Regions from separate parts of the Homo sapiens genome. Here region 1 is linked to region 2. The links come from fine-mapping of genetic effects on gene expression. A gene starts in region 2. The other region holds a variant in brackets. All regions are shown on one strand. Distances are from middle to middle.

What was found. PIP is the estimated chance that this variant, and not a neighbour inherited with it, causes the effect.
Region 1: its variant is fine-mapped to the expression of ABCD2 in whole blood (TOPMed, PIP above 0.99).

What each region holds. Positions count from the first base shown.
Region 1 is chr12:39,807,502-39,810,327 of GRCh38, reverse strand. The region is part of intron 7 of SLC2A13 (solute carrier family 2 member 13); the gene reads left to right. It also overlaps a transcript of REDIC1 not described here. Among named protein-coding and RNA genes, the nearest start is that of REDIC1, 180 kb to the right of the region's middle. The variant AGTGTTGG/G (reference allele first, on the strand shown) is at 1,737.
Region 2 is chr12:39,618,327-39,621,152 of GRCh38, reverse strand. It overlaps ABCD2 (ATP binding cassette subfamily D member 2), which reads left to right and starts at 1,350. Exons shown (of 10, transcript NM_005164.4): 1 at 1,350-2,476. The coding sequence starts at 1,538. RefSeq lists enhancers at 1,039-1,558, 1,869-1,948.

The sequences.
Region 1 (2,826 bases), 190 kb before region 2:
GGCAAATGAAATATTTTAAAGGCTAATTATATCATCAAAAGATGAAATTCTTAAAGATAAATTTAGCAAGAAATAACAGGATCACTACACTGAACACTATAAAATATTACCGAGTGAAATTAAAGAAGATCTAACTAAGTAGATCACACTCGTGGATAAGAAGACTTAATATGGTTAAGATGTCGGTTCTTCACTTTTACATTGTTGGTGGGACTGTAAACTAGTCCAACCATTGTGGAAGTCAGTGTGGCGATTCCTCAGGGATCTAGAACTAGAAATACCATTTGCCCCAGCCATCCCATTACTGGGTATATACCCAAAGGATTATAAATCATGCTGCTATAAGACACATTCACACATATGTTTATTGCGGCACTATTCACAATAGCAAAGACTTGAAACCAACCCAAATGTCCAACAATAATAGACTGGATTAAGAAAATGTGGCATATATACACCATGGAATACTATGCAGCCATAAAAAAGGATGAGTTCATGTCCTTTGTAGGGACATGGATGAAGCTGGAAACCATCATTCTCAGCAAACTATCGCAAGGACAAAAAAACCAAACACCGCATGTTCTCACTCATAGGTGGGAACTGAACAATGAGAACACATGGACACAGGAAGGGGAACATCACACACCAGAGACTGTTGTGGGGTGGGGGGATGGGGAAAGGATAGCATTAGGAGATATACCTGATGCTAAATGACGAGTTAATGGGTGCAGCACACCAACAGGGCACATGTGTACATATGTAACAAACCTGCACGTTGTGCACATGTACCCTAAAACTTAAAGTATAATAATAATTTTTAAAAAAGATGTCAGTTCCTTTTAAGTTGATCTCTAGATCAACTCAAGTAATTCTAATCATAATCCCTATAAACAGTTCTATAAAAAATGACAAGCTCGTTCTGAAATTTATATAGAAATGCAAAAGAACTGGAATGGCCAAAACATTCCTGAAAAAGAAAGACATGCCCTATCTGATTTCAAGACTTACTATAAAGTTACAGTAATCCAGACAATGTGATGTTGGTAAAATAGACATAAACATCAAGGGAACAGAATAAAGTCCAGAAATAGATCCATATATGCATGGCCAATTGATTTTCAATAAAAAAACCAAATTAATCCAATGGGGAAAGAATAGTCTTTTCAACAAATGGTCCTAATACAGTTGGCTATCTACATTGCGGGTGAAGGTGGAGGGAATGGACCTCAACTCTTACACCCTAAACACAAAAAAGCTCAATATACATCATAGACCTAATAGTAAAAGCTAAAATCATAAAACATTTATAAGGAAACATAGGAGGAAATCTTTGCGACATCAGGGTAAGCAAGTAGATAGGACACAAAAAGCACACACAACAAAAGAAAAAATTGATATATTGGAGTTCATTAAAATTAAAATTGTCTACTCTTTGAAAGACATTGTTAAGAGAATACAAAGCCCAAGCCACAGACCGGAAGTATTATTTACAATAAGTATATCTAACAAAGGAATTATGAATAAAGAATTCTTACAACTTAAAATAAATAAAGCAACCTTTCAAAAGACGCCAAAAGATTTGAACAGACAAGTCACAAAAGACTATAAAAAGATGGCAAATAAGCACATAGATATAATGTTCAACATTATTAATCATTAAAGAAATGCAAAAAAATTATAGTGACATGCTACAGCACACCAACTAGAATAGCTAAAATGAAAAAGTCAAAATATCA[AGTGTTGG/G]TGAGGTTGTGAAGCATCATGTTAATGGGAATGTAAATTGGTACAAACACTTCAGAAATCAGTTTGGAGGTTTCTTCTGAAGTTAATCACATCTTTTCCATACAACCCAGTAATTCAATTATGACACATTTAGTCAAATGAAATAAAATGTGTCCAACAAATGTTTCTACACAGTCGTTTATAGCAGCCTTATTCATAATGGACAAAATTGGAAATTACGTAGATGTTACTTCAACAGGTGAGTGGATAAACAAATTATGATACACCCATATAATTAAATACTACCCAGATAGATGGAAGGAATTACTGATATGTCCAGTAACCTGGTACAATTTCAGAAACATTGTGTTGGGCAAAAAAGCCAGATACAAAACAATATATACTGTACAAGTATTTATATAAAATTCTAGAAGAGCAAACCCAATCTCTATTGACCAGAAATAGCTCAGTTATTGACTGGAGTTGGGCATGAAGGAAATTTTTGGTGTTATGGAAATGTTTACTCTCTTGTCTGTGGTAGTGGTTACATGGATTTATACATTGTCAAAACTCATTGACTTACACGTAAAATTGGTACACTTTATATTTTGTATATTATACATGAATAGATGATTAAAGTACTGGATTTCTTGACTTCCAAGAATTATAGCATACAAAATTATATCTTCCTAGCTATTTTCAAAGGGCAGACTAATTCTACTTTAAGCAAACAGCATTTGATGACACTTTTCATCACAGACAAGATTCTCCTGGTACGATTATTAAAAGTTGGCTTAGGCAACTTTTATAGCTAGACTCACCTAGGGGGAGAAGACCCAACTCTCCATTATTATAATTATTATAATTGAAAGGGTGCACTTAGAAGAAATGGACAAAATTCCTGATAACACAAATTTCCAAAACACAAAAAGAAATAGAAAAACTAAATCATGTATCCATTTTAATCACCAGATTTATTTGCTTGTAGCTTACCTGCAGGTTTAACAGTACCTTTGAAAGCAAATGAGTAGCCTAGCTGATATTTATCAAGTCTTATAGCCACCCTTTACTTGTTTTTCAATTAGTGTTTTTATTTTGAAATAA
Region 2 (2,826 bases):
ACTCCAGCCTGGGTGACAGAGAGAGACTCTGTCTCATAAAAAAAAAAAAAAAAAAAAAAAAAAAAGCTTTTTACATTTTCAAAAATATGCAGAATTGTCCTTGACTGTTGAACAATTTAAATCCTCCATTATGGATGTGAAGAATTTTAAGACTCTTAGTTTTTATCAAATAACCAAATGGAAATAGGAAGTAGCCAGTAGATTATCTCTACAGCTAAACAAAACAAACAAAGCAGAAACCTGCAAAAGACAAAGCATTCTTGAAAAATGAAGTAAGGTCCTAGAGAAGCTATTTCCACCATCCAACACCAGCTGAATTCCCAAATGGTTAAACTTTCACTATAAGTGCTACCCCACTCCAAGTAAAAACTACCTAACACATGGGAGTAGTAAACATGAAACATTGCTCTCATTTATTTAATAGTCGTCACCTTGTAAATAAATATGAGTACATCAGATCTCCAGTTATGGGGCTGGAAGATTTTTAGCATAAGGACAAGTAGGATGCAGAGGAAAAAGGGAGAATGGCTAGAGGCATAGCAAATAATTATTTTCTGTAACACGGAAGACTTTTATCCTATTTATTTACAAGGGAAACCCTCGATTACAACTTGTCTATTAGGTTCTGAGACCTTTTGTGAAATCAGACCCCCAAAAAAGCCGGGGGGATCTGTGAAAAACAGATCCAAGTGTATTTGATATTTGGCATTCTCCGGTGTCCCTCCCACTTGTCACTTTCTTTTCTGATCCGTTTCAGATTCATTCCATATCCTTTTCATATTCATTTTATGTTGATCCTCTTGTCCCTCCTCCCTCATTTTCGTGGTTCCTTCTCCCTCCTCGTCTCATTAAAACTCTTGCAAATCTCCCTTTCTGCTTGCTCTTCTGTTTGCGGTAGCTGCTGAAATCTTACCGAAGTGATGTATATTCTGAAACTTCTGCGGGTTTCTAAGTGACATTGAGCATGCTCAGTAGCTAGGGCCGGTTTTGTTCGCTTGGAAATCTCCCTTTCTGCTTGCTCTTCTGTTTGCGGTATCTACTGAAATCTTACCGAAGTGATGTATATTCTGAAACTTCTGTGGGTTTCTAAGTGACACTGAGCATGCTCAGTAGCTAGAGCCGGTTTTGTTCGCCAGCAGATGGCCTGATTCGACCTCTCCAAAAATAGACATTTTAACTCTCTGAACTCCTGTTTAAGGAAGGATGTAATTCGCTTTGCTCTCTCCTCATTTTCAAGGTTCAAAGGGAAGCTGCGAGGATTCCAAGGTCCCACCGCCCTCACAGCCAATGAGGGGCCTGGGAGGGAGGAGCTTGGTGCAGCTTGAGCTTCTGAGAGAATCATTCCCGGTAGATGCAGCGGAGTCTGAGCTCTGCTGCATCTGTCACAGCAGAACAAAATTAAAAACACAACAGTGGAAGAGAAACGCTGCAGACTATGGGACGCTGTAGGACTTTCTAAAACATTTGCTGGGGATTTCTGTGAAGCATGATCTTTTAAAACGAATTCTTTTGGAAGCCGGTTTGGGTAACTGGGAAAATGACACATATGCTAAATGCAGCAGCTGATCGAGTGAAATGGACCAGATCGAGTGCTGCTAAGAGGGCTGCCTGCCTGGTGGCTGCGGCATATGCTCTGAAAACCCTCTATCCCATCATTGGCAAGCGTTTAAAGCAATCTGGCCACGGGAAGAAAAAAGCAGCAGCTTACCCTGCTGCAGAGAACACAGAAATACTGCATTGCACCGAGACCATTTGTGAAAAACCTTCGCCTGGAGTGAATGCAGATTTCTTCAAACAGCTACTAGAACTTCGGAAAATTTTGTTTCCAAAACTTGTGACCACTGAAACAGGGTGGCTCTGCCTGCACTCAGTGGCTCTAATCTCAAGAACCTTTCTTTCTATCTATGTGGCTGGTCTGGATGGAAAAATCGTGAAAAGCATTGTGGAAAAGAAGCCTCGGACTTTCATCATCAAATTAATCAAGTGGCTTATGATTGCCATCCCTGCTACCTTCGTCAACAGTGCAATAAGGTACCTGGAATGCAAATTGGCTTTGGCCTTCAGAACTCGCCTAGTAGACCACGCCTATGAAACCTATTTTACAAATCAGACTTATTATAAAGTGATCAATATGGATGGGAGGCTGGCAAACCCTGACCAATCTCTTACGGAGGATATTATGATGTTCTCCCAATCTGTGGCTCACTTGTATTCCAATCTGACCAAACCTATTTTAGATGTAATGCTGACCTCCTATACACTCATTCAAACTGCTACATCCAGAGGAGCAAGCCCAATTGGGCCCACCCTACTAGCAGGACTTGTGGTGTATGCCACTGCTAAAGTGTTAAAAGCCTGTTCTCCCAAATTTGGCAAACTGGTGGCAGAGGAAGCACATAGAAAAGGCTATTTGCGGTATGTGCACTCGAGAATTATAGCCAATGTAGAAGAAATTGCCTTTTACAGAGGACATAAGGTAAGATAGAAATTAAGGTGATGGGTGAAATGTGAAACTGTTCAAGTTGCCACTGCAGTGCCAGATACCATCTGTTGTCCTGTCGATGGACCCACTTCTTTAGTGTCTTAGATTCCTCTGACATCTAAACCTGAATTAAAATATATGCTTCATTACCCCTTTTAACTGTAACCAGTTAAAGGATTATAGGGTGCAAACTTTTCTAAAGTTTCAGAAGAATAAAATTTGCAACACTCTAAAAAAGTCTACTTAGCCTCAGTTACTCAAATATGCTCAGAATTATTTCTAACGCATTTTCTTAAAACTTAAATCCCAACTTGGTAGGTCATCCTAAAGCACCTACCAGAAGA